4 linked regions of the Homo sapiens genome follow. The protein of the gene in region 1 interacts with the protein of each later gene in a biochemical or structural test. Each region holds a gene or a part of one and is shown in the gene's direction. Other genes may lie near its edges. The genes, in order: PRKCQ, GLRX3, CARD11 and HSF1.

Region 1 (7,024 bases):
GCCAAGCATTTATACATGTCAAATTCTGATTGCTCTGTCATCTAAACACATTCTTGGGGACAAAATGAGCATCAGAGTTTTAAAATTAGGAAAGCTCACTCAAGCCCAGAATCATAGATTTTTGCTCCTGGATTAAATTAGCAAGTATTTGGCAGGACATCTTTCTGCAGGTTGCTGTAGGTTGATGTTAGCTTTTGAATTAAGCTAATAGTATTAATTATAATAATAATAATCAGCATCAACAAAACCAATGAAATATGGTTTTGAGTCTTTATTATTTAGAATTTATGTGCTGTATATCATACTCAGAATTTTATTTATATGTAAGAGGCATTACTGCTTCATTTAACCTCCAAAAGCCTTTATAAATTAGATATTATTATTATTCCAGTTTTTCAGATGAGGAAACTGAGGCTCAAGGGGTAGAGCCCCTTGTCCAGGTCTTATAACCAGTCAGTGGTAGAGTCAGGTTAGTTGGACCATCCAGATTAGTCTAACCATCAAGCATTTGCTTTAAACCGCAGTCCCAGGTGACCTACCAGTTAACTTTTTTATTGTGGTTAAAATACACATAACTTAAAATTTAACTTCTTAACTATTTTCTAGCGTACAGTTCAGTGACATTAAGTATATTCACATTGTTTTGCAACCATTGCCATCATCCATCCACAGGATTCTTCTCATCTCCTAAAACTGAAACTCTGTCCTCGTGGAACATTCGTTCCTCATCCGTCTTTCCTCTCAGCCCCTGGCAGCCACCCTTCTACTTCCTGTCTCTAAGATTCTGACTGCTCTAGGGACCTCACAGAAGCAGAATACAGTATCCATCCTTTTGTAACTGTCTTATTTCACTTAGCATAGTGTTCTCAAGCTGTATCCATGTGACAGCATTGGACAGGACTTCCTTCCTTTTTAAGTCTGAATACTATTCCATTTATGGATATACCACATTTTGCTTATCCTTGTATCTGTTGATGGTTGCTTCTATCTTTTGATTATTGTGAATAATGCTGCCGTGAAGAGGAACACGCAGATATCTGTTTGAGGTCCTGCTTTCAATTCTTTGGGGTATGTACCCAGCAGTAGAATTGTGGGGTCGTAGGGTAATTCTATGTTTAATTTTTTGAGGAACTGCCATATTGTTTTCCACAGTGGCTGGACCGTTTTACATTCCCACCAGTGGTAGAAAGGGTCCCAATTATTCCACATTCTCAGCAACGCTGTCTTTTGTTTTGTGTTTTTTGAGATGGAGTCTCGCTGTGTCGCCAGGCTGGAGTGCAGTGGCATGATCTCAGCTCACTGCAACCTCTACCTCCCAGGTTCAAGCAATTCTCCTGCCTCAGCCTCCTGAGTAGCTGGGACTATAGGCACGCGCTGCCACACCCAGCTAACTTTTGTATTTTTAGTAGAGATGGGGTTTCACCATGTTGGCCAAGATGGTCTCGATCTCTTGACCTCATGATCCACCCACCTTGGCCTCCCAAAGTGCTGAGATTACAGGCGTGAGCCACCGCACCTGGGCTTTTTTAAAAATCTTCTTTATAGTAGCCTTTCTAATTGGTGTAAGGTGCTGATAGTTAACTTTTTACCCAATCATTGAATGCCCAATGGCAGGGATCTCTGGGCTGATGCTACTCCTGAGTTCATTGTTTATTTCCTATCCCAGCTTGAGCATATACACCTTTTTCTAGTGTAGAATTAATGGAGGAAATACAACTCACACAGCACCTGAGGGACTAGGGAAGCCATGGAAAGGACAGTCCCTAAAACATAAACAGAATGTCCCGGTAGGTAGGGTTATCTCCACCTCCATGAGGAACCTTATGATTCAGAAATGAGTAGTTGTTGAGAATAAAGTGAACATGGCATCAGTGTTAATAACCCTGAATGTGTGGGACAGATGCTTTTTAGAAGATTAGTTACAGATATAATTATCTTTTGTATGTTATCAGAGCAGGACAAGTTCCCAGGACAATGGAGAGAATGGAAAGGGAAACTGCTATTGAATTCACCAGGCCTTTGTTGCAAGCCTCAGATCACACACCGTGCTGCAAAACCCACAGGGAGATGTGGTCAGGCAAATAGGAAATTATAATGAATTGTGATGAATTCATGAGATATTTGTACTATTTTGTATCAGTTTATAATGTCATGCAACTCTGTTTTATATTTGCTAGTTTCCTTTCTGTCTCTTTTTTCCTCTAGCATGAAACTCCATGAGGGCTGGCATTTTGTCCCTACATGTGTCCCCAGCCACTCTAACAGGGCCTGACACATACCAAGTTGTGAACAAATATGTGCAGAATGATTGTGTGTTTCAGTAGGGGACACACTTGGTATTATGTGCACAGCTAGATTTGGGGTGTCGCAGAGCTGTCAGTGACGGCTCAACTGAGACCTGAAGGGGAAGTGGCAGTGAGCCAGATGGGGGTTCTGGGAGGTAGGAACAGTGTTTGTAGAATGTCCCTGCAGCATGTGAGTCTGGAATCCCAGTGCAGTCCAGTCTAAGCCTTGCAGATGAGTGGAAATGAGCAGAGTAAGCATCACAGCTTCCATTTAAACCTCTGCTCCCCATCCTAATTTGCCATATGACCTTAACCAGTGAACTTCTTGGAGTGTCATTCTCTCCATTTGCAAAGTGAAGAAAATTGTGATCTCTGATAGCAGTGATGCTGCGAGAAAGGAGCATGTGCCAGTGTGTGGGCTATTGCTGGGTGGAGCTGGAGGAGTCAGCTGTGCCAGATCACATAGGACCTGTAAGCAGGTGAACCATATACGTTATCCTCCAGATGGGGACTGTTTATAGAGTGAAAGAGCACGTTATTAATCACTAAGCTTGGGTAACAGGTACAAACCCAGATTGTCCTGGGCAGACTGTCCCGTAGAGTTGTCCTGCGTTAAGTCATACGAAGGAGTTTGATCCTTTTCTAAGAACAGGAGGAACCCTTTAAATGCTTTATCTACCAATGTATACAAGTGCCATTCAGGTTCTCTCCAGCGTTTCAGAGAGTTTTACCTGCCCATGAACTCACAGCACTCGGCTTGCACTGCAAACTCACCTATACGTTGGCAGCTGTCTCCTCACTGGGCACTTAATTCATGAACAACTAGGAGGGAAAGACAACAAGACAGCCAGGGGTCTGCTCTTTGGCTCTTTGCATTTTTTTTTACGGGGTCTTGCTCTGTCGCCCAGGCTGGAGTGCAGTGGCACGATCTCAGCTCACAGCAGCCTCCGCCTCTGAGGCTCAAGGGATCCTCCGGCCTCAGCCTCCTGAGTAGCTGGGACTACAGTTGCATGCCACCATGGCCTGGCTAGTTTGTGCACTTTGTAGAGATGGTGTTTTGTCATGTTGCCCAGGCTAGTCTCTAACTCCTGGGCTCAAGTGATCTGCCCGCCTTGGCCTCCCAGAGTGCTGAGATTAAAGACATGAGCCACCACACCTGGCCTAGCTCTTTTCGCCTTTAACTGGAGTGTTAGCTGATATCAAGAACACATCTTTTGGGTTTTTCTTTTTTTAACCTTGTAACACCTAAAGGACTGCGGCTAAGTGTTAAAAGAAAAAAATTTCTATCTGGTGGTTTAAATATCTGCAGAAGCAGAATCCTTGTCATCCTGAAATTTTTTCCCTGTGGGCAAGAATTCCTAATAAGCGTACAATCTATTGGAAAAATCAAAAAGTAAACAAACTATGGCAATATATTCTAACATGTATTGACTTGTCACTATCGGCCGTTTGCTGTGCTAAGCACTATATGTAGATGATTGCTTGGGTGCTTTGAGAACATGTAGAAGGGAACCAAGTCCTGATTCGGAGGTTCAGGAAAGGCTTTCAGAGGACAAGGTATCGCGGGTGGGGATGGAAGATGTATGGGAATTAGCCAAAAGGACAGGGGTTCAGAGGTGAGCCAAGTCTGTCCTGAAAGTAAGCAGAAATGTTGTTGTTCTTGTCGTTTTGAGAGAAGTTCATCTCAGCTGTGTTCAGCATTTTTAGGGCATAAGCTTCAACATTTTCCGTTCTGTTTTCACTGATATGTTTTAGCTATACAAAAGCAGGCCTTCTACACAGTTTTTCAAACTCCAAGACACAGTCTACTAGTGGGCAATGACATTAATTTTGGGGGTGATAACAAGCATGAAATAGAATAAAACAGAAAATATTAAGATGCATTTCATGTAGGAAGGGTAATTATTTCATGAAACTGTATCATTTGGTTTGGGACACATTAAATCTGTTCGTACCTAAAAGAAGACATTCATGCAGCCAACAAACATGGAAAAAAAACCCTCAATATCACTGATCATTAGAGAAATGCAAATCAAAACCACAATCAGTTACCATCTCCTGCAAGTCAGAATGGTGATTATTAAAAAATCAAGAAACAACAGGTGCTGGCAAAGTTGCAGAGAAATAGGAACGCTTTTACACTCTTGGTGGTGGGAATGTAAATTAGTCCAACCATTGTGGAAGATGGTGTGGCAATTCCTCAAAGATCTAGAACCAGAAATACCGTTTGACTCAGCACTCCTGTTACTGGGCATATATCCAAAGGAATATAAACCATTCTGTTATAAAGATACATGCACACGTATGTTCATTACAGCACTATTCACAATAGCAAAGACATGGCATCAACCCAAATGCCCACCAATGGTAGTCTGGATTAAGAAAATGTACATACACACCATAGAATACTATGTAGCCATAAAAAGGAATGAGATCCCTGTCCTTTGCAGGGACATGGATAGAGCTGGAAGCCATCATCCTCAGCAAACTAACACAGGAGCAGAAAACTGGACACCTTATGTTCTCACTTATAAGTGGGAGCTGAATAATGAGAACATGTGGACACAGGGAGGGGAACAACACACACTGGGGCCTGTCGGGAGGTGGGATTGGAGGGAGGGAGAGCATTAGGAAAAGTAGCTAATGCATGTGGGGCTTAATACCTAGGTGATGGGATGATAGGTGCAGCAAACCACCATGGCACGTTTACCCATGTAACAAACCTGCACGTCCTGCACCTGTATCCCAGAACTTAAAATAAAAATAAAAATTAAAGAAAATTACATACCTATGGCATTTAGTTTTCTATACCATTCCTTTAAGTCATAGAATCAGATGAGCTCAGGGGCTAGAAGGAAGAGGGAGCGATGGGAAGGCAGTCGTTGGTCATGCCCTGGGCCTGGATCGCGGGAATCAGTCATTCAGAAAGCCCCATATGTTGGGTGGGTCTCACAGCTTACAGAGAAGCCAGCTGAGGTGTGCAGGTTAAGAAACTTGATCTAGGGTCACAGATTAAATTACTAGCGCTGACCCCTGATCTCTTGGCTTCTGATGTGGTGGTATTCTTTCCATACCTCCAGGGACTGTGTTCCCAAAGTTTGTTAGTTAGGTGGCTGTTTAGGGAAGGACCACACCTGGTTCCTGTTTGTTTGTTTCTTGGTTTGTTTGTTGGTTTGTTTGTTTGTTTGTTTTTGAGGCAGGGTCTTGTTCTGTTGCTCAGGTTGGAGTGCTGTGACTCAATCTCGGCTCACTGCAACATCTGCCTCCCAGGCTCAAGCAATTATTGTGTCAGCCTCGAGAGTAGCTAGGACTACAGGCATGCACCACCACACCTGGTTAATTTTTATGTTTTTAGTAGAGACAGGGTTTCACCATGTTGGCCAGGCTAGACTTGAAATCCTGGCCTCAAGTGATCCTCCTGCCTTGGCCTCCCAAAGTGCTGGGATTACAGGTGTGAGCCACCCCACCTATCAAGGGAAGATATTTTCTTAAGGGGAGTATGTAATAACAACCATGTCCCTGGTTTGTTAGGAAGGTTATAAACTTTGAAATATACCCATCAGTTTCATAAAGAGCAAGACAGGTTAGGAAGAAATAGTGTTCATTATACAGACTAGAGAGCTTTCAGCTTGACATTGACAAATATAAACTTGGCCACTGTCCCTCCACTAAAGCGTTTCCCTTGCTGCTGGGGAAGGACCGCCTGGTGATGTTGTGTGAGATGATGCACTTTCTTTGCCCCCTCTGTGGTCACTGGGATCACAGCTAAATCCAACTGTCTGCTTTTTCCAGTGTCTACACATAGGCTGATGAGTTCTCCCGGAAAACACGCCGCTCTGCAAATTCAGGATGCCGTAGCTCTGTGACTTCCCACTCCATCTAGGATCTCTGTCTTCCCCAGCTCCCAGACGTTTCCCTGGCCAATGATCTTCCTTCCCACGGCAGCTTCTCCACAGCTGCTCCTGCCTCCGCCGTCCCCTCGCACTCAGCAGCTGTCTTGCCTCCTGCTTCCCTGAGAAAGTACAAGTTTCCCGATTCAGAACTGCCCCCACCTGGGGATCACAGGGCTGCACGCCTCACTTTATCTGAATCCATCCTCTCATCCTTCTTTTCTTTCACAACGAAAGAAACCCCTCAGTTCCAGCCAGGCACAGTGGCTCACATCTGTAATCCAAGCACTTTGGGAGGCCAAGGTGGGTGAATCACTTGAGGCCAGGAGTTTTAGACCATCCTGGCCAACACGGTGAAACCCCGTCTCTACTAAAAATACAAAAATTAGCCAGGCGTGCTGGCGCATACCTGTAATCCCAGCTACTCGGGAGGCTGAGGCAGGAGAATCGCTTGAACCCAGGAGACAGAGGTTGCAGTGAGCCGAGATTGCCCCATTGCACTCCAGCCTGGGTGACAGAGCAAGAGTCTGTCTTAGAAAAAAAAAAAAAAAAAGAAGCCCCTTAGTTCCTGTCTGAGGCTCACCTCCCCTGGGGCCCTGGAATCCATTTCTTTCTTGTTCTTGGGAATCTCAATCTCTTATCTTCCCTGTCACCTGCATTTTCCTTCTCTCCCTCATTTCTGGCCCCATTCTCTCTGTATTAAGTGCGCTTAAATCCCTTCCTTCTGTGAAAAAAAGAATATATATCCTTTTATACCTTCCTCCAGCTACTTCCTTGTCTTGCTTCTCTTCACAATCAAACTCCTCAAATTGTTGTCTACACTTGCTGCCTTTGCTTCCTCACCCCACA
Region 2 (7,024 bases), about 120 Mb from region 1:
ATTGGTTGTTTAGAGCATGTGCCTGGACATAATGGAATCTCTGGCTGGTTCTGGTTTGATGAATGACTTTTAGGAAGCAGGTGCACACCTGTGCTTCCAGGCACCCATGGGTGTCATCGTAGTTCCCCAAATACCTCATTTATACTTAGTAATAGATTCATTCCAGCCAATGTGGGGGCAGTCTTTTTTGTATTATGTTAGACTGACCTGATTTGACTTTGAGATGTTGCAGTGTTTTCTCAGTGTGTTTCTGAGAAAAGAAAAAAATTATGTATTTCTAAAATTGAGATGCAGTGCAGGCAATTGGCAATGAGGGTTTCTTTTTTTACATCTCCGGTAATACTGTTGTCCCCTTTAAAAATCTGCTATAACAATGTCATTATTATGGAATGCTGCATGTATTCTAAATAACTTTTTAAACTTTAGAATTCTCAGAAAATCGACCGATTAGATGGTGCACATGCCCCAGAGTTGACCAAAAAAGTTCAGCGACATGCATCTAGTGGCTCCTTCCTACCCAGCGCTAATGAACATCTTAAAGAAGATCTCAACCTTCGCTTGAAGAAATTGACTCATGCTGCCCCCTGCATGCTGTTTATGAAAGGAACTCCTCAAGAACCACGCTGTGGTAAGAAGCTGCCTTTAACATAATATAAACAAAATGGGTGCTTTCCCAGAATGGGGTATGGTTGAGATGGGCATCCTGTTTCCAAGGATGCTATACCATACATCTTATACTTGTGTTCACATACTTTTAGAAAATCAAAAAGGTTATAATTCCCAATGACACTATATAAGAATTAGTTTGCATTATGGACTCAGCATGTTGGAACCAAAAGGGGTCTCAGAACTCATCTAATTCAGATTTTTGTTTTATACTGAAGTCCTCAGACTCAAAGATAGAGGTGACTTGCCCAAGGTCACCTGGTAAGCAGAGTTAGGATTAGGTTCCAACTACCATATTGCTGTCTCTTTTGCCTGTTTATCTACTTTTGCTGTTAACAGTTATTTTTTCTTTCTTGGCAGCCTCCTGTTTTTCACCTAGTTCAGATTCAGCAATTAAAAAATTTGCGGAATTTTTCAGTGTTTTTGTGTCCAGCCTGTGTGCTTTTGCCTCCCCTGTGTCATCACTGTCTAATGATTCTCTTCCTGCATTGCTGTCATTTCCAGTTTATAGCTGCTGGTAATGGAAAGATTCCGAATTCTTGGCTTGTAGTCACTCTTATTTTCTGTACACATGGATGCTTATAATTTTGTCCTTAAGTAAGTTTTAGAGTTATTTGACCCCTCTGGTAGTGGGTTTATGTTATTTTCTTTTTACTGTGCCTAGTACAACATTAGTATGCTGCATAATTGAGCATTTAATGCCATTTGATGATGCTGTTGAGACTCTAAGAGTATTTGTATCAACTACACAGGAGGGACTTTATTAAGATAGGGGCAGTAACATTGAGTATGCTCTTGATATGATTACAGCATGTCCAGAGTGACTTTATAAAGATAGCCAAGCTTCTAGTGTGAATTTGATTCTAAATTCTTCCCTGTAGGGTTATTAAATTACATATTAGCTTATGATAATGTCTAGTTTTAAAAATAAAGTTTCATGATGAATTCTTATTTTTTCGAGATGGAATTTCGCTCTTGTTGCCCAGGTTGGAGTGCAATGGCACGATCTCAGTGCGACGGAACCTCTGTCTACTAGGGGTCAAGCGATTCTCCTGTCTCAGCCTCCCGAGTAGCTGGGATTACAGGTGTCCACCACCATGCCCGGCTAATTTTTTTGTATTTTTAGTAGAGATAGGGTTTGTCCATGTTGGTCAGGCTGGTGTCAAACTCCTGACCTCAGGTGATCCGCCTGCCTTGGCCTCCCAAAGTGCTGCTGGGATTATAGGCGTGAGCCACCATGAATTCTGTCTTAAAAGTATCTCTTAGTTCTGCCTAAAAAATTTCCCTGCCAGTATTTATGTGTCAGATAATGCCTGCTATTTGTGTATTGCAAAGCTAACTTAGTCTGTACTAAACTAAAGGTAGCAACAGATAGTCTCTGTTGCGTTTGTTATTTTGTTTTTAACGGGGGTTGCAAATGGTTCACATTCACCTTCTTCCATGAAACATGAAAATTATTTCTTGTACTTTGTGCGGTGGCCACTAAATGGGAACTTACCACTTCAGTTGAATGGATTGTATTCAGCACCTTCATTCAGATCTCAGGTACAGTAGAACTGGCTGTGAAATGTGGGTGAAGCACACCTACAGTGAAATCTCTACAGTATTCTCTCCTTTGGGGTTGAACAGCAGCAGTCTCAGTCTTTTCTGAATGATAAACCTAATGAAAAGGCAGGTGGCAACACTGAAGCTTGGGGAAGGAGTGCTCAGAGGAGAAGGATGTCCTGGGAAGTGTGCTGCACTGGGTGTCATGCCAGGCGAGCCTCAGGCCCACCCCTGCGGCCTTAGCAACTTTGGGGACAAGTCAGGTACCCTCCTTGTGCCTTTAATTCCTTCTAGTGCTGTTGGGAACAAGATTGGCTGTTGGAGCCAATCTTGGAGGGCCTTTTCAGTGTAGATATTGTATGATTATTCAAGTAAATTAGAGAGAAACTTAGACATTTTAATTTTTCTGCTTACCTTTTACTTTATTAAACTGAATTTAAAATATACTGCTAGCATTTTTATATTTATATTAAACTTATTTAAATTATGTTTATTATAATGGAGTGAGATTTGGAAGACTGTACAAATAACAGAATAAAAAAGAAGCTTTGAAATATTTCAGGGCTGGGCGTGGTGGCTCATGCCTGTAATCCCAGCACATTGGGAGGCTGAGGTGGGCGGATCGCTTGAGATCAGGAGTTCGAGACCAGCCTGGCCAACATGGCGAAACCCCGTCTCTACTAAAAATACAAAAATTAGCTGGGCATGGTGGAGTCCTGTAATTCCAGCCACTTGGGAGGCTGAGGCAGGAGAATTGCTTGAACCTGGGAGGCAGAGGTTGCAGTGAGCCGAGATCGAGCCACTGCACTCCAGTATGGGTGACAGAGTGAAACTCTGTCTCAAAACAAAACAAAACACATTTCAGAGCCATCTGAAAACGTAGTATTATAGTTATTTAATTAATAAAAGACAATAAATATTTTGAGATACATATGGTTGAATGGTTACAGTTTCTTCTTTTAAAGTACTTCTATATAATTTTTATAACTACATTTTCAGTGGGTTTTTCTGTTTCCTGATATTTTCTGTTTCATGTCTTTCTGTCACATATAGTAAATAGATCATTTAAGAATGTTGCTGTTCTTTAATAAAATACTTAGGATTAATTGGAAAATATTTTTAAACTGTTTTCTTATGGGAACATAAGTCACCTCGACCCTCTGCTGTTCCTTTCTGAGCCTGGTTAGTGGAGCATTGTTTTTGCTCTTCTTCTGGCATTTTAGAGAAGGGCGTAGGCAAAGCTCCCTTTATAAAAGCACTGGCCATCTCATCTTGTGAACACGCACGTGGCTGCTCTTTCCTTATTTTGCACCAAATTAGCTTTGAAAGTGCTATCTCTGCTAACACCACTGAACTCCCACTGCGGAGTATTTTGATGTTTGTTTTTTGATTAGTTTGTCCCCACCTTGCTTTCTGCTAATCAGAAAAACATGAATGAATAACATTTAAATTTTATATCTAGAAAACCTTGAAAGCCATTTTTAGGGTCTCTCCTGGAGCCCCACTGGACTCAGCCTAACCCCTGCACAGGTCATGTCTCCATCTTCTTATCCTTCATGTGGGCTCTACCTGCAGAATTGTATGGTGTGTTATGAGCCTGACGTGTAGATAGGGTCTCAGTTGAAAAGAATTGGATTGTCCTTACTCTGTGCTCCTCATGAAGATGGGAAAATGCTTGTTTTAGGAAGAGTTTCCAGAAGCACTGAGGTATATGTCATCTTAAACAGAATCTTAAATCCTTGAGCAGGTTAATTATTTGGGAATTCTTATAACTATTTCAGTTAACAAAGCTTTTAGCAAAGCAAAAGGTATTTGAGGCATAGTCAGATATTCCTTCTGCAGTGAGAGTCATCCAGCCGGGCTCTTACTTTTGAATCAGCCACAGAATCAGGTTTCAGAGATGTTTTTTAGGGTTTATTGTTAGGTAGTGATGAGATGCGGTGTTAGGCACCTATTCATGTCATGAGTAGAAATGACTGGGGGTGGAAATGGGGATTCTGTGGCAGTTAAACATTACTTTTCTACATTTAAATATTTTTATTGCATGCATGCATTTTTCTTAAAAAAAGGTGTGTAAATATTTTGTTACTAGAATAAAGCCTTCTTGCCATCTTATCCTTAAGCGTAACATTTCTAGTCTGCCACTTTAACTCTTAAAAATGAAACACTACCAATCAATCTTTCTAGTCTGCATGTAATTGCCTAAAGCTAAAATAAAGCTTCTTCTCAGCCAGTTACAGTAAAAATGAGTTAATATATTGGCAACAGAATAACCATCAGCAATCAGCCGTTAGCTGTTTACTAATGAACTCCCAGATGAATAAAAAAATTTCAGAATCAGTGTTTTACTTCAGGCTGTACATGAACTTAACACTTCAGATGTAGGAAAAGCAACTTATATGCTATACAAATAAATACTAGTGCTTCATCTCAATAAACTGCAGATTTGGAAAATGTTTAGAGCTCACTTGTAGATCCATGTTTTAATAGTAAATATGATTTTGGGTGACATCAGTAAAGCCCATTCTTGCAATTAATCTTATATTGAATTTTATGGTTTGATTTTATTTAAAAACAATTGCTGACACTGCTAAGTCTTATAGAAATTTTGAATCTGAAGAATAGGTTCTTTTCCAGTGAATTACAACTGTGTTTGAGAAGAAGAATGAGGCGTGAAAGAGTAGGGCCCTACATAGTATTGGGAACAATGGAGAAGAATTAGCTTATGGAAAGAAAAATACTTTTTTTTTCAGACTAGGCTAATAGGTTTATAAAAGACTGATATTCACACTCTTATTCTTCAGTTATAATGTCATAATAAGATGATGTCAAAAAAGTACAGAATAAAAATGTGTCACAAAAGTATAATAAAATCATGGAACATAAAATTGTCGCTATAGTGTAGTAAAAAAATTACATTACATACTTTAGGGAATGTAAATAGTTTTAAAAAAGAAACTGTCAAGTTATGACATGAGATGAGAAAGAATACCGTCAATCTATTGATGGTTCATATATAACAACAGAGAAGATAGCTTTAAAATTCAATGTACTGTGTGTATTTTAGACTACAGGAGAACACATGCCTTCTTGATTTCTAATTTATCCTACTTAGAGATAGTGAAGATTGAGAACTACTGAAGTGGGAACTCAGGAAGTAGTAAAATGGCAGTAGAAATGCAACAGCATTGGGTTTTAAGTATAGTCAAGTAGTAGTTAAAAATAACAATTGTAGAATTTTTTCATCTGCCCAGAATTGATTCTCATAGATTCATAACAGAAAGGCTGGGAGGGACTGTCAGAGCATCAGGTCAGTCTCCTGATTAGTAGGAAAGTGCTGAGCGGAGGCCACCCATGGCCTCATCATGTGTCACCTTGGTGGGTGGAGGGAGCAGGTGTCAGATTCAGATTTCTGGTTTTGTTTAAAGACAAGGTCTTGCTTTATCACTCAAACTGGAGGCTGGAGTGCAGTGACAATCTCATAGGTCGCTCCAGCCTCAGACTTCTGGGCTCAAGTGAGCCTGTTGCCTCAGTTTCCCCAGTCTCTGGGATTACAGGTGTGCACCATCACCCCCAGGTCTCTGCTTTTTGGCTAGTGCTATTTCTCCTGTGACAAAAAATGTCCATGATATTGAAGAATAACTTTAATAAATACACACACCACTTTTTTTTTTTTTTTCAGTAGTCACAGTTGTGTCAAAAAGTTAAGTCATATCTGAGTGTGTGATATGGTTCAAGGTCAAATAAGGGGATCCAGGAATTTATTTTCTCTTTGTATATTATTCAGCCATGCTAATTAAATCACCAGCAAAATAAGGCAGGCGTCTATGTCTTTTAGATGATATGTACGCTGAACTAATGTATTATCATGTGTATGTGTTTTGGGAGAGAGAAGTTAAGTGCTTTATTTCTTTTTTTGTGTACAGGTTTCAGCAAGCAGATGGTGGAAATTCTTCACAAACATAATATTCAGTTTAGCAGTTTTGATATCTTCTCAGATGAAGAGGTTCGACAGGGACTCAAAGCCTATTCCAGTTGGCCTACCTATCCTCAGCTCTATGTTTCTGGAGAGCTCATAGGAGGACTTGATATAATTAAGGTTAGAATTGAGAAGTCTGTGCTTTGTAAAGAAATTCCATTTAGAGCATACTTTTTAAAATGTTGTGATAAATCTAAGATACAAATTTCTTATGAATCTATATTTACTAATAAGAACCTGCAATGAATACACAGTATTTCTGATTAGTTGATTGATCAATAATCTGTGTTATGGTATGATCAAGGAGATTTATGTTATAATAATTTTTTTCATAAAACTGGTATGTGTGCTTATTTTAGGAGCTAGAAGCATCTGAAGAACTAGATACAATTTGTCCCAAAGCTCCCAAATTAGAGGAAAGGTAAGTGTTTTAGAAGGTTTCAAATAGCCTATCATTTAATATATTAAAAATATTTTAAAGTCCTCAGGTTTTGCATTGCTCTTTCTGTGTAGAAATCAAGGATTTGGTATGCCAGACGTCATAATTGTTTAGTCACATTAGCCATTCAAACTTTGGCAAATCTAATTTGTATTGGAGAAATTTTAGCACCAACTTAGTGATCATGTGGAGGATCTGCTTTGCTTTTATAGAAATGTCATTGTTTCTGTGGAACAACCAAGTTTTGCTTACCTCTCTGCATTTCAGAGCCAGGGTCCAGTTGTTTTGTCACTGCTCCTTGGCGTAACCTCAGCACACTCGTGTTTTACTGGGTGCAGCCTTGGTGACTGCTGCGGGTGCTGCCCCAACGCCAGAGCACTGAGTGACAAGTGGTG
Region 3 (7,024 bases), on another chromosome or scaffold:
AAGGGATGAAAGGAGCCAACCATGCAAGTCTCAGGGGAAAGCACTCGCAAAGCCCATAAGTAGGGGGCATTTTGTTTTTGTTTTTGTTTTTGTTTTTGAAGAAACAGCAGGAAGGCTGAGCTTGATGGCCCACACCTGTAATCCCAGCATTTGGGGAGGCCAAGGCGGGAGGATTGCTTCAGTCCAGGAGTTTGAGACCAGCATGGGCAACATGGCAAAACCCCATCTCTACAAAAATAAGCCAGGCATGGTGGTATGCACCTGTAGTCCCAGCTACTAGGGGTGATAAGGCAGGACGATTACCTGAGCCTGGGAGGTCGAGGCTGCAGTGAGCCATGCCTGTCAAAAGAAAGAACTAGAAGGAAGGAAGGAAGGAAGGAAGGGAGAGAGAGAGAAAGAGAAAGAAAAAGGAAGGAAAAAGACAGGAAGGGAGGGAGGGAAGGAAGGAAGGAAGAAAGGAAGGGAGGAAGGAAGGAAAGGGAGGAAGGGAGGGAGGAAGGAAGGAAGAGGGAGGGAGTAAGGAAGGGGAGGGAGGGAGGAAGGAAGGAAGAGGGAGGAAGGAAGAGGGAGGGAGGGAGGGAGGAAGAGGGAGGGAGGAAGGAAGGAAGGAAGAGAAACAAATGAAAGAGAAAAGAAATGGCAGGAGAGTCAGTGGGGCCAGAGCCAAATAAACAAATGGTGCAGAAGGGAGTGGAAGGGATGGCGGGGTCCAGATCATGGGGGCATGGTAAGAACTTTGGGATTTATTCTAGTTGTGATGAGAACCCTCTGAAGGATTGAGAGCTGAAGAGTGACAATTGATTTATGTCTGAGAAGGATCACTCTGGCTGCTGGATGGAAAATAGACTCACAGAATATTTATTAAGCACCTGCCACGTGTGAGGCACTGTGCTAAGCACTGTGGGAGACATGGGGATAAATAACGTGAGCTGTGCTCAGGTCACTTACAATTTAGTGAAGCAGACAGATCCGTAAACAATCCACCGGGAATTCAGGTGAATTGAGTCAGTGGCATAGCAGGCAATAGTGTTTTGGTTAGAAGCATGAGCTTTGTAAGTCCTGTAGCTTTGAGTTCAAATTCTGGCTTTATGCTTTACGACTTACTTAGCTATTGGCCTCAGTTTCCTCATTTGCAGATGTCAATAATGAAAGTAATACGTGTGCCCTAGGATTGCTGGGATACTGAACCGTAGGTCTTTGGCGGAGCGGCTGACCCTGTAAGCACCCCACAATGCTAGCGCCCCATGCCTGCTCGTGTGGGACCCGGGACTTACCACAGGACACTTGGGTTAAGCTTTGAAGATGCTGAGGAGCTTTTTTTTTTTTTTTTTTTTTTTGCATGAGCAGGAGAGATTTCTATGCTGTTTTTACCTAGGATTTGGGGAAGTTACCCTGTGGCAGAGACTTACAAGTTTCTCTCCCGGAACTTCCTCCTGTGTTATGTTTCCCTGGAGATACATTAATAGTGAGAAAGTGTAAGTAGAATTTGGAAGAACATCTGGCCAGCAGAGTCCCTGGCTGGTTTTCTTGGCCTCGGGCTGCTTCCTGCACGCCCCTTTCTTCATCGTCTCAGGTTAATCACTGGGGTGCAGGAGCTGGTCTTTTCTTGCTAAAGCCACTGCTCTCTACCTGCCAGATTCCTTGAGATGATTCTCCTTCCAAGACTAGATTTGAAAAATGACACTCTCCCCTTTGGTGCCTCCTTTCTTTATAGCCCTCGAATGCAACCTTCTTGTTTGGGATACTTTAGCAAAGCCGATGTGTTTGGGGAGGAACACAGGTTAGTCTCACAGGTTGAAGAAGTCTTCTGCTGGTCCCAGTTCCTGACACTAAACTCTTGAGTGTGAAAATCAGCACATCTCCACTTGTCTCATTTCCAGATGCAATAGCTGCCTCCTCCAGGAAGCTACTCTTTCTGCCACTAAGTCTAGGGAGGTTCTTTAGGGTGGAGATCCTGTGAAATTACAATTCAGTGAATTTCAGGCTGTCTTCTTCTCCTTCTCCTTTTCCTTCTCCTTCTCCTCCTCCTCCTCTTCCTCTCCTCCTCCTCCTTCTTCTCCTCCTTCTTCCTATTATTCTTCTTTCTTCTCCTCCTCCTCTTCCTTCTTCTTCTTTCTTCTTCTCCTTCTCCTTCTTCCCCTTTCTCTTCCTCTTCCTCTCCTCCTTCCTCCTCCTCCTCTCCTCCTCCTCTTCCTTCTTCTCCCCCTCCTCTTCTTCCTCTTTTTCCTCTTCTTCCTCCTCCTCTCCTTCTCCTTCTCATTCCTCCTCTTCCTCTTCTTCTTTCTCTTCCTCTTCTTCTCTTTTCTCTTCTTCCCCTTCCTCTTCTTCTTCCTCTACTTTTCTTCTTCTCCTCCTTCTCCTGTTTTTTCTTCTTTTTCCTCTTCCTCCTCCTCTTCCTCTTCCTTTTTAGCAACAGTGCTATTTATCCAAATAAAATCTTGTGTGAAACCCAGAAGAACAAACCACACAAGCAGAGCTGTTCTGGGATGTGAAGTCAGTGTGGATGCCCAGAACCCCAACTTGTCAACCATCTCCTCCTTCCCCCTGGGTAACCCCTGGATTCCTCAGGGGAATCCTTGAGTTCCGAGGATCAGAATTTGAAACCCATCAGAGAAGGGCGTTGAAGTGGGAAACACCAACTTGGATCTCTTTTATCCCAAAATCCATAACCTGTCCCACCTGACAAAGGTTGAGGGAATTTTCTCTGAGGCCTGTAGCCCCTTTGGAGCTATTCTAAATAGACTAATCAGGAACTCTCCATCAACAGGGTGATGACAGTTTGTTTTACTGGAGAAGGTTTCTTGGAGCCCTTCTCTGCCCGTGGAAGAAGGAGAGAGGGGCATAACTCAGGTTATGCTGCCAGCCCAGTGGGATCGGGGGAAGCGTTGCCTTTTCTGAGTGTTTCTTGCCACCTGCCTTCTCCCCTGGGCACCCTTGGGGTATTTCAGATCGATCAGCTAAAGCACCGGTTGAATAAGATGGAGGAGGAATGTAAGCTGGAGAGAAATCAGTCTCTAAAACTGAAGAATGACATTGAAAATCGGCCCAAGAAGGAGCAGGTTCTGGAACTGGAGCGGGAGAATGAAATGCTGAAGACCAAAAACCAGGAGCTGCAGTCCATCATCCAGGTGAGGGCCTGGGGGCGGGGCCAGCGCGGGCAGTGGGAGGGTGAGGGCTTGGGGTTGGGGGAAACGATGAACCTGCCAGGGTGTGAGTCCCCAAGCCTCACCCATGCTGACTGCAGGATCACAGGCATGCGTGCCATCCTTGGGCACCTTTGTCTCCTCCTCTGTAAAGCGGTGACCCCCACCACCCATTTGTCAGAGATAGGATATCATACTTGGGAAAACATGTGCTTATTTGAAGCACTCCAGGAAAATCACCAACCACGTGGAAATCAATGCCCTGGGCACTGTGGGAAGAGACAAGGACATCTAGGAAACCTACGTGCCCTTAAAGATTCCAAGAAACTCAACTGTAAGCTCCGTGCCTCTTGTTCCAACCTCAAATGCCTCCCCACACTTGTCATCGCCGAGTCACTTGTGGGCACAGAGGAGGAAGTTGCTGAGGAGTGACATCCCAAAACATATCTACAGGGCAAGAAAAAAAACATGCATCCTCCTGCTCCCTCCAGAACAGTCCCCCCAGGAGTGGCTGCCTGGTATATGAGGCTCTGTTTCAGAGCCGAGGATGAACCCAGCTTCTCCAGAACAGATTCCTTGATATTTCAGGGGCAGCATCTAAAAAGTGTTTCGGGTGCAGCAACTGCTTCTCTGCGCTCCGATAAGCGCCAGGGAGAACAAAAGGCCCAGGATACGCCCAAGCAAAAGCCAGTTTTCTGCTTCTTTCCAGGCAATAAACTTCTTAAATGCTAAGCTTCTTAGAGACCCCAGGGGACATACATCTCTTCTTGCCTCTACCTTCCAGGCACAAAACCTTCTGCTCTGTCCGTATCTGTTGCTGGTTCTTCTGTCCCCTGCCCTCCAGGACCACCTGGCTCCCCACCCCGACCCTGACCCTCTGAAACCTCCTCCCTCCCACCCAGGCCGGGAAGCGCAGCCTGCCAGACTCAGACAAGGCCATCCTGGACATCTTGGAACACGACCGCAAGGAGGCCCTGGAGGACAGGCAGGAGCTGGTCAACAGGATCTACAACCTGCAGGAGGAGGCCCGCCAGGCAGAGGAGCTGCGAGACAAGGTGGGAGTGGGGATCGCCCGCCCAGCGGTGCCCTCGGCCGGCCCCCTTCACACCAGGGGGCAGTGGTGTGTGTCAGCAGGACCTCCCTGACCCCACACTCCTTTCCAGGGACTAGATCAGACCCCTGGCATAAATCCCCTGTACCTCCCAGTATTCAGCCCCTGGCAGAAGCTGCAGTTTATCAACCAGATGAGGGCCTGGGGGTGGGAGCAATGTGGGCAGAGGGGAGGGTGAGGGCTTGGGATTGGGGGAACCCACATACCTGCCAAGGTGTGAGTCTCAGAGCCTCACCCACACCTTGCGGATTGCAGGATCCCAGATGTGCCGGCCACCCTTGGGCATGTACAAGCTATTGCACCAGCTTAGCACCTGTGTCCCCCTCCTGACTGAGATCACATTGTCCTCCCCTATGTTACCTGGTCTGTAGTGGGTTCACAACAATGCTGGGTTGATTGGTCTCCTACCTTGAGCCCCAACAGTCAGATAGTCGGTTCCCAGAAGGGCAGGCCATGTCCTGACCATGCCAGCTTAGGGAGGGACAGGCCAGCTCCAGCCAGCTGGCGGGAAGGCACGAGCAGAGAACAGCTTTCAGTCCTGACCTATTGATTGCTCGATGCGCATATTGATTTCTCTGTGTGGTTCACAGTACCTGGAGGAGAAGGAGGACCTGGAGCTCAAGTGCTCGACCCTGGGAAAGGACTGTGAAATGTACAAGCACCGCATGAACACGGTCATGCTGCAGCTGGAGGAGGTGGAGCGGGAGCGGGACCAGGTACAGGCACCACCTGCAGCGTGCAGGGCGGCGAGGCTGCACAGCGGGGCCCGCACCCCAGACCACCGGCTCCTTCAGAGTGTTTTGTCCAGTGCAACATCACTGACAATGCAGGGATCACTCCTGAATCCATCTTTCCCATTTCTGTTCCAAAGATGAATTCTAAAAGATGAATTCCAAAAGGCTTTTTTGGAAGTCACAGGCGTTTGGGTAGCAGGGGGATCCGAGCTGGGCTCCAGCAGCTCCCACGACCAAGCATGGTTCTTAAATGTTGTGTGTTCTCTCGGGTGAGAGGATGGGTTCAGATCCAGCCCTGTCATTCATAAGGTGTATGCCCATAGGCAAGCTGCCACCCCTGACCTCAGTGCCCTCATCTGTAAAATGGGGATAATTACGGTAGCACCGCCTCATAGGGACAGGCTGTGGCCTTCCAGGGACACTGCATCAAAGCTCTCAACACAGAGCCTGCCACTAGCAAGGGTCGGACCATCGGCTCTGTGATCGCGTTAATGAAGAAGGTAGTGACTGACACGCCCAGGGGTCAGACTGCAGACGAGAGCCACAGACGATGTGGCTGGCCCCTGGGTTGGGATGATGCCTGTCCCTGGGCCCAGCTGGATTTGGCTGGGGTGCAACCCCCAAAGCAGCCTTCGTCCCGCTTCTCCCTGGCAGGCCTTCCACTCCCGAGATGAAGCTCAGACACAGTACTCGCAGTGCTTAATCGAAAAGGACAAGTACAGGAAGCAGATCCGCGAGCTGGAGGAGAAGAACGACGAGATGAGGATCGAGATGGTGCGGCGGGAGGCCTGCATCGTCAACCTGGAGAGCAAGCTGCGGCGCCTCTCCAAGGACAGCAACAACCTGGACCAGGTGGGGCGGGACGGGCAGGACCCCACGCCTGAAGCCAGGTGGGCCCTGGTGCCCACTGAGGGCTGTGGCCAGTCCCCACCTCCCCGTGGAGACCCACACCTGAAGCCAGGTGCCCCCTGGCACCCACTGAGGGCTGTGACCAGTCGCCACCTCCCTGTGGGGCCCCAAACCAGAAGCCAGGTGCCCCCTGGCACCCACTGAGGGCTGTGACCAGTCGCCGCTTCCCTGTGCAATGAATGGCTCCTTGTCCTTTGTTTAGTTTTGTTTTGCTTTTGAGACAGGGTCTCACTCTGTCGCCCAGGCTGGAATGCAGTGGCACTATCACAGCTCACTGCAGCCTCAAACTCCTGGGCTCAAGCAGTCCTCCCACTTCAGCCTCCTGGGTAGCGGAACTAAAGGCACACACCACAATTCCTGACTAATTTTGTAATTTTTTTGTACAGACGAGGTCTCACTGTTTCCCAGGCTGGTCTTAAACTCCTATCCTCAAGCGATCCTCCCGCCTCAGCCTCCCAAAGAGCTGGAATTACAGCCGTTTGCCACTGTGCCCGGTTGGCTCTTCATATATTTGAAGCCGGAAGTTCCCTCCCACGCCCAGCATAATCCACATCTTTTACTGTTGTGTTTGTGTCTGTTTAGTGATGAGTGGAAGCCACTCATTTTGAAGTTAGAAGATGCAGGGTAGGGCTGGGCACAGTGGCTCATGCCTGTAATCTCAGCATTTTGGGAGGCTGAGGTGGGAGGATCGCTTTAGGGCAGGAGTTCAAGACCAGTCTGGGCAACAGAGCGAAAATTTTTAAAAATTTAAAAAATTAAAATTAAAAACATAAATAAGAAGATGCAGGGCGCCAGGTGCGAGGGTTCACGCCTGTAATCTCAGCACTTTGGGATGTCGAGGCAGGTGGATCACGAGGTCAGGAGTTCAAGACCAGCCTGACCAGCATGGTGAAACCCTGTCTCTACTAAAAATACAAAAAAATTAGCCAGGCGTGGTGGTGCGTGCCCATAGTCCCAGCTACTCGGGAGGCTGAGGCAGGAGAATCGCTTGAGCCCAGGAGGCGGAGGTTGCAGTGAGCCGAGATCACGCCACTGCACTCCAGCCTGGTGACAGAGCAAGACTCCATCTCAAAAAAAAAAAAGGCAAGCTTGACCTGGCCACTTCCTTGCTGGGCAGCCTCTGCCTT
Region 4 (7,488 bases), on another chromosome or scaffold:
TCTAACGCCTCAGCCTCCCGAGTAGCTGGGATTACAGGCACGCGCCACCACGCCCAGCTAATTTTTATATTTTTAGTAGAGACAGGGTTTCACCATGTTAGCCAGGCTGGTCTTGAACTCCTGAGCTCAGGTGATCCATCCACCTTAGCCTCCCAAAGTGCTGGGATTACAGGCGTGAGCCACCACGCCCGCTGAAAGAATTTAATAAAAAAATCATTAACATGTAAATGTGTAAATCCTTAATTTAAAAAGGGACAGAAGACCCAGAAAGATGTACACCAGACCACTAACTGTGCTCACGGGTTAGGTGTGAGGGCCCTGAGTGGGAGCTTCCACCCTACTGAATGGTGCTGCTACAATATCTACATTATTTTCCAGGATGTTTTATCTCATAATTTTTTTTTGAAACAGGGTCTTGCTTGTCACCCAGGCTGGAGTGCAGTGGCTCTATCATAGCTCACTGTGACCTGGATTCCTGGGCTCAGGAGATCCTCCCACTTTGGCCTCTCGAGCTGCTGGGATTACAGGTATGAGCCACTGTGCCTGGCCCAGTATTGTATCATTTTAAAAACTCAAGAAGGGGTAACGTAGTTGTCCATAATCTTACAAACCACTGCCAACACAGCACATCATTTTTTCTCTGTGTATGTTAGTGGTATAATTAAAGCCTGAATTAAGTGTGATTTTAAATCTTTTCTTCCCAGCAAACAAGCCAACCCAACACAGCTAGCACACAATGAACAAGCCATGGTTCCTTGGCTTCTATCACGGGGACCTCTGCCAAGGCCGTAACTTCCAGAACACCGAAACTACTGGGAGAGTAAATCCTTACAAACGATTTCCAGAATGTTTAGAGTAACAAATGCTGGGCTGGGCGCGGTGGCTCACACCTGTAATCCCAGCACTTTGGGAGGCCAAGGCAGGCAGATCACTTGAGGTCAGGAGTTCGAGACCAGCCTGGCCAACATGGTGAAACCCCGTCACTACTAAACATACAAAAAAAAATTAGCCGAGCCTGGTAGTGGGCACCTGTAATCCCAGCTACTCAGGAGGCTGAGACAGGAGAATTGTTTGAACCCAGGAGGTGGAAGATGCAGTGAGCCAAGATCGCCCCACTGCACTCCAGCCTGGGCAACAGAGCAAGACTCTGTCTTAGAAAAAAAAAAAAAAAATAGGCCGGGCGTGGTGGCTCACCTGAGGTCAGGAAATCGAGACCAGCCTGGCCAACACGGCAAAACCCTGTCTCTACTAAAAGTACAAAAATTAGCCGGGCGTGATGGCATGTACCTGTAATCCCAGCTACTAGAGAGGCTGAGGCAGGAGAATTACTTGAACCCAGGGGATGGAGGTTGCAGTGAGCCAAGATCACACCACTGCACTCCAGCCTGGGCGACAGAGTGAGACTCTGTCTCAAAAAAATAAAAAATAAAAAAAAATAACAAATGCTGTGTTTTAGTTAAATTATGCTTTTCTCCTGTTGTTCTCAATAAGAGTAGGGTGCATCCTCCCCCACCATCGCTGCAACAGGTACAATGTTAAACCCTCTACCCGTCGGCTGCTCAGGCCCCTGAAGCCCTGTGGGGTCAGGCCCAGCTGGGTTCCGTTGGGGCCCCCATGCCGCCTGCTTGAGCCCTGCCATGCTGCTCAGCTCCCTCCTCAGCTGGGTCCTGCCACTGGATTCCAAGCAGTAAAATCCCCACCTCAAGGAAACCCAACCTGTTGCCAGGAGGGTTGCCCGAGCATCGTCTGACGGGGAAGGGCCTAGGCATGTGGATTTTCAGAGTTCCTGGGAACGGCACGCAACTGGGGATGGAAACCAGCGTCCTAGAGCCCAAGCGTGCCCCAGGTGCAGTGAAGGAGGGACGCCGGCCTTGGGGTTCTGAGGGACGGTGGAGAAGGCAGTACAGTGGCAGTCTCAGAAAGCCCAAGGCCACCTGCACATGGGGGACAGCCCTCGAGGGGGCTCCTCGCTCACCCACCTGCACCTGCTCCTCAGTGGTCTTTTTAATCCCACTGTGGCCCTCGTCATCAAGGGCTCCGTCCTCTCCCTCCTCGTCGCCTTCGTCATCATCCTCACTGCTGTCACTGCCGGAATCTTCCAGGCCTGAGAACACACTTTCCTCGCTGTCGGAGACGCCAGAATCGCTGCCGGTGCTGTGGCTGAGAGGAGAGGTGCAGAGGAGGGGGGGCTGCAAGGAAACACTGGGTTGGTGACAACTGCCCCTCCAGGCATGGGGCACTGAACACTGCAGGGAGAGCTGCCTCTCGCCCCTCCAGCCACCCACCAGCAGCTCCATGTGGCCTCCAGGACCACACCCCTCCAGTCACAAACTTCCACCAAAAGCATCCACCCAACCTGAGCCTTCCTCATCTTCTACCTCCACTGACAAGACAGCCTCTTGCCTTTGCCATCGACATTTTAATTCCTAGCACCTCACAGGGAAGGGGCTTTTCAAGGACAACCTCCTCCTCTTGGAGCTCAGCTCTCATCGCAAAACTAACACTGCTCTCTACCACCCACTGACACTCCGGAGGCCCTGTGGGGTCAGGCTGGGCTGGACTCCACTGGGTCCCTCAGACAGCCTGCCTGAGCCCTCTCCACACCTCACCCTGGCATCCAAGGCCCCAGAGCCAAGAGGTCACTAGAAAAGGGGCTGGGGGCTGGAAGAGAAATGGGTCCCCAAAGGGCTTTTACCACCTGAAGCAGACGCCTCCTCATTTAACCAGATTGGGACCAACGATTGATCAGTAAATTGAAAGGATTGGCTGAAGAGTCACAGGAATGATAGAGACTCTAACCGCAACCACGCACCAACCCACCCACTCCTCTCTCTGAGCAGGACCACAGCTGCCTCTGAGCAGAGCCCTGCTGGCTGCGTGACACCGGCACACACAGTGTTCGGGTCCTTCACTGGCCTTAAAGGGTGGAACAAGAACTTAGACTCTTAGGAAGCAGTTGAAGGCCAGGCACAGTGGCTCACTCCTGTAATCCCAACACTTTGGGAGGCTGAGGCGGGTGGATCACCTGAGGTCAGGAGTTCAAGACCAGCCTGGCCAACATGGTGAAACCATCTCTACTAAAAATACAAAAATTAGCTGGTGGTGGCGGGCACCTCTAATCCCAGCTACTCAGGAGGCTGAGTTAGCCAGGAGGTGGAAGCTGCAGTGAGCCAAGACTGCACCACTGCACTCTAGCCTGGGCAACAGAGCCAGGCTCTGTCTCAAAAAAAAAAAAAAGAAAAAAGAAAGAAAAGGAAAAGAAAAGAAAAAGGAAGCAGTTGAATGCAGAATTCTAGATTTTACTGTTTTCCTAATAGTTTACAAGTCTCACTTAAGGTACGACCTGCATGTATTAGCTATTGCATACCGAGTGTTCACACAATGCCTCTCTCACACAGAGTCATGATGTGTCTTGGTATTCAGTCGGCTACACAATCACAATAACTAGTGGAAATGGCATCCGTGGCCTGGGCGCAAACAACTGGCTCCTGAGGACCGTTTAGTCCAAGGGTGGAAGTCGCAGAACCTGGCGCCTAGAGTGGCCTGCGGGCCATTCAGCCCATGGGAGCCAGGATGAGTTGAATTCGCTTCACAAAGCAATGGGGCAGTTTCAACAACCCAGCGCGGCCGCGGCCGAGGGGGCTGTGAGGGGCTGGCTGTCCATCCCCTCCACCACCCAATTTGATGATCCCCACAACCAAGACAGGGCTGAGCTAGCAGAGAGCAACAGTGAGTTCTAATACAGCAAATGCAGCAGACACTGGGTTCTATTCAGGTTTTCTTATTCTCATGTCTATCCCATGAGCATAAAAACGCAATTAACTAGCGTATACGTAGGTTAAGCATTTACTGGGAGCGCAAGCCGAGCCCTTTTATTGGCAGGATGCACAAATGGAACGGCTGGAGAGGCTGCTGCAAGGGGCGCCCCGTCCCCACTCCCCGCTCCCCCGTTTCTTTGCTTCCCGGACGCCGTCCTTTACCCCGCAGTCCGCTCTGCCTGAGACCCCCCGATAGAGGAGCTGCACCCACGCCCAAGACCGATTCACTGGGCGCGGGCGCCCAGGTGACAGAAGCCGGGCCCACCCGCCCCAGCGCGGCCACGTGCCCGCCGGGCCCTCTAGGGACGCGCCCCGCCGCCCCGCATCGCCACAGTCACCTCCGGCTCGGGCTCAGGCTCCAGTTCGGGCTCAGACCGCCGCTTCTCCGGCCGCACGCTCGGCGCCGCCGTGCGCCCCGCACCCCGCGAACCCGCCATGCCCCACCGCGCGCCGGCCGCCACCCGCACAGCCGCTTCCGACAGCGACCGGGCCGCGTGCGCAGGAGGACGCGCCCCGCCCAGCCCGGCCCCGATTGGCGGGTGGAGGGAAGGGGGTGGGACCAACACGCGCAGGCGCGCGGCTGGGCCGGGGACCAGGGCGGGGTCGGGGCCTGCGTGCTCGCGCCGGGGGTGACGCGGGAGGGCGGCAGCGGCGGCGGCGGGAGCGCGCCCGTTGCAAGATGGCGGCGGCCATGCTGGGCCCCGGGGCTGTGTGTGCGCAGCGGGCGGCGGCGCGGCCCGGAAGGCTGGCGCGGCGACGGCGTTAGCCCGGCCCTCGGCCCCTCTTTGCGGCCGCTCCCTCCGCCTATTCCCTCCTTGCTCGAGATGGATCTGCCCGTGGGCCCCGGCGCGGCGGGGCCCAGCAACGTCCCGGCCTTCCTGACCAAGCTGTGGACCCTCGTGAGCGACCCGGACACCGACGCGCTCATCTGCTGGAGCCCGGTGAGGGCAGCGCGCGGGCGCGGGGCCCGTGGGGACCGGGAGGGAGCAGGGCCGCGGCGGACGGCGCGGGAGGGCTGCGGGGAGGGGCCCTGCCGCACTTCAGCTTACGCGCGGTGAGCCTGCCCTGCCCCCGCCAGAGAAGGGCGGCGGGTCCCGAGCCTGCTCAGACCCAGAGCCTTAAGTTGGGAAAGCGGCTACGAGACCCACACTCGGTTCAACCCCTGCCCCAGCGAAGTTTCCCTGGGATGGGGAGAATGGGGCGTCTCTTGTATTGGGCTTCTGCTAACTGTTGGGCGGTTGCGGAAGTGTCCGCGCTTAGGGCAAGCACCCGGCTTCGCCAGCGGACGCTATGCCCCAGAGGACATCGGCGTCCCCAGGGGACAGCCTACGGGGTGCTGGGTCGGCAACTATTAGGAGAAAGTCAGGACTTGGCACGTGAAGTGGAGGGCGTTGCTGTAGTGGAACAGGAAAGGCAGTGGAAACAGTAAGACGTCATGAAGCTTCAGGTTGATCTCAAGCCCGTTTCCGAATCCCAAATCTGGGTTTCCCAAGAGGAGTTTTGTTTTTCATTCCTTATGGGGCATCTTTATTCGTGTTTCTGTCTTCAGTTGCCTGGCAGCAGGCTTGTTTACATGGTCCGACCCTGCAAGACCGGACAGCTCCGGTTTGCAGAAGTAAATCAGTGATTGTCTGGAGTTGGAGATCAGAATCTGCTGTTCACATCCCGGCTGTGACGTCGTGTCCGGTGAGGGGCAGAGCCACCGCCTGCGGCTGGCAAGTGATGACCTGAAGAAGGGCCACACTGGCCGAGTGGGGTGACTCTTGCTTGTAATCCCAGCACTTTGGGAGGCGGAGGCGGGTGGATCACTTGAGGCCAGGAGTTCGAGACCAGCCCGGACAATATGGCAAAACCCCAGCTCTACTAAAAATACAAAAAATTTGCCGGGCGTGGTGGTGCTTGCCTGTGGTCTTAGCTACTTGGGAGGCTGAGATAGGAGGACTCCCTGGACCTGGGAGGCAGAGGTTGCACTGAACCAAGATCCCGCCACTGCAGCCTGGCAAAGAGTGAGACCCTGTCTAAGAAAAAAAAGAAAAAAAAGAAAGGCCACTGATCATTGGGAGCTTTTGGAGGCACCGTGACCGGCAGGGTGCCACCAAGCATGTGTGGCCTCCCAGGAGCTAAGACCCCAGAGTTCTTCAGGCTCTGCTGAGTGCCTCCCATTTGCACAGCCTCTTTATGCTGTTAGGAATGAAGAAAAGTCTAAACTGAAGCTGCCCCAGGCAGGAGGCCAGGTTTTCTGCTTCTTGGGTTTACTGAGGCTCTGCTTTACCTACAGAGTGTTTGGAAATAAAGAGAAGACTGGAAATCTTTGCTCTTGTTAGAAACACTTTGTGTTTGTCCCGCTGACACCTCTGTGTTGGCCTTCCCATCCCCAGGTCCCATTAAGGCACAGTGCACCTTCCTGGAGGCTGGCTTCATTTCACCATCTCTTCATTCTAGACCTTGGATTCTTGTGCAAAGGAAATACTCCCATGTTTCTGTCTTCTTTTATCCGTCTTTTTCTTTTTTCTTTTTTTTTTTTTTAGACCGAGTCTTGCTCTGTCACCCAGGTTGGAGTGCAGTGGTGCGATCTCGGCTCACTGCGACCTCCACCTCCCGGGTTCAAGCAATTCTGCCTCAGCCTCCCGAGTAGCCAGGACTACAGGTGCGTGCTGCCACACCCGGCTGATTGTTGTATTTTTAGTAGAGACGGGGTTTCACCACATTGGACAGGCTGGTCTGGAACTCCTGACCTCAAGTTATCCACCCGCCTTGGCCTCCCAAAGTGCTGGGATTACTGGTGTGAGCCACTGCACCCAGCCCTTCTTCTTTTTCTTATTCCCCTTAATCCTCAGAAGTTAAGGGGAATAACTCCCCCATTGGGGGAGGGGCATCCGCGATTATCTGGGATATTCTAAGCTTAATCCTACTAGCGTGATCTGTCCTGTCCCGTAATCTGCTTGCTGTTTCTGCTTAAAGATTATGAGGCATGTGGGTTAGGGCCCAGTGTACCCTTTTTTGGGACCGAGGCATGTTCTGGGCAGGGCTTTTGAGCAAGGAAGGCAGGTGTGATGAGGCCCGTGGCCAGCCTCCACTCCACTCACAGGTGCACCACCTGTGGATCTGTTCTCCCTGGGGAGGGATGGGGAGCCAACTGGAATGTGAGTGTTTGGTTCCACCTGGTCAGTATGAAGTGGCAATGGTTGGTGCAGGACGTAGCACTGGGGGCGAGCATGGCAATGAGACAGAAACACTGACTTAAAACTGGAAGGAAGCCCTTCTCCAGGCCGCGCAGGGGGCTGCAGAGCTTTCCGGCGCTGGCTGCCTGGCCTGGAGAAAGGAGGTGATCATCCCATCCTGTGACTTTGAGAGCACTCACACAAGCCCTGAGGACTCCCTGTCAGCAGAGTCCCAACAGGGCACCCTCCCACAAATCTACTGCCCAGGCCCAGCTGGCTCTCGGAGGCCTTGAGAAGGCCCTGGTGCTCTTGCTCTCTGCTGCCTTCTCTGGGAGAGTCTCCTTCTGGCTCAGAGTCTTACCACCATTCTGCCAAGAAAAACCCTCCCTATTTGACACAAGAAGATGAGGCAGAATCACAGGCATGGTGACTAACTCTCAAGGCTGAATAACCTGGGGGAGACCGAGGCCCAGAAACTGGCCAGTAACTTTACTGAGCCTGGCCAGGAA

The links.
Region 2: the proteins of PRKCQ (region 1) and GLRX3 form a complex in vitro, tested with the Homo sapiens proteins (one study listed by BioGRID).
Region 3: of the proteins of PRKCQ (region 1) and CARD11, one has a biochemical effect on the other in vitro, tested with the Homo sapiens proteins (2 studies listed by BioGRID).
Region 4: of the proteins of PRKCQ (region 1) and HSF1, one has a biochemical effect on the other in vitro, tested with the Homo sapiens proteins (one study listed by IntAct).

The regions. Positions count from the first base shown.
Region 1 is NC_000010.11:6,570,258-6,577,281, reverse strand, and holds part of PRKCQ (protein kinase C theta type), read left to right. Parts: intron 1-7,024. UniProt on the Homo sapiens protein: Calcium-independent, phospholipid- and diacylglycerol (DAG)-dependent serine/threonine-protein kinase that mediates non-redundant functions in T-cell receptor (TCR) signaling, including T-cells activation, proliferation, differentiation and survival, by mediating activation of multiple transcription factors such as NF-kappa-B, JUN, NFATC1 and NFATC2.
Region 2 is NC_000010.11:130,160,370-130,167,393, forward strand, and holds part of GLRX3 (glutaredoxin-3), read left to right. Parts: intron 1-426; coding exon 427-628; intron 629-6,137; coding exon 6,138-6,310; intron 6,311-6,549; coding exon 6,550-6,611; intron 6,612-7,024. UniProt on the Homo sapiens protein: Together with BOLA2, acts as a cytosolic iron-sulfur (Fe-S) cluster assembly factor that facilitates [2Fe-2S] cluster insertion into a subset of cytosolic proteins.
Region 3 is NC_000007.14:2,935,853-2,942,876, reverse strand, and holds part of CARD11 (caspase recruitment domain-containing protein 11), read left to right. Parts: intron 1-2,948; coding exon 2,949-3,128; intron 3,129-4,045; coding exon 4,046-4,198; intron 4,199-4,844; coding exon 4,845-4,970; intron 4,971-5,642; coding exon 5,643-5,840; intron 5,841-7,024. UniProt on the Homo sapiens protein: Adapter protein that plays a key role in adaptive immune response by transducing the activation of NF-kappa-B downstream of T-cell receptor (TCR) and B-cell receptor (BCR) engagement.
Region 4 is NC_000008.11:144,287,116-144,294,603, forward strand, and holds the start of HSF1 (heat shock factor protein 1), read left to right. Parts: upstream 1-4,488; 5' UTR 4,489-4,642; coding exon 4,643-4,759; intron 4,760-7,488. Other genes in the region: ribosome biogenesis protein BOP1, read right to left, coding at 1,980-2,189, 4,157-4,255. UniProt on the Homo sapiens protein: Functions as a stress-inducible and DNA-binding transcription factor that plays a central role in the transcriptional activation of the heat shock response (HSR), leading to the expression of a large class of molecular chaperones, heat shock proteins (HSPs), that protect cells from cellular insult damage.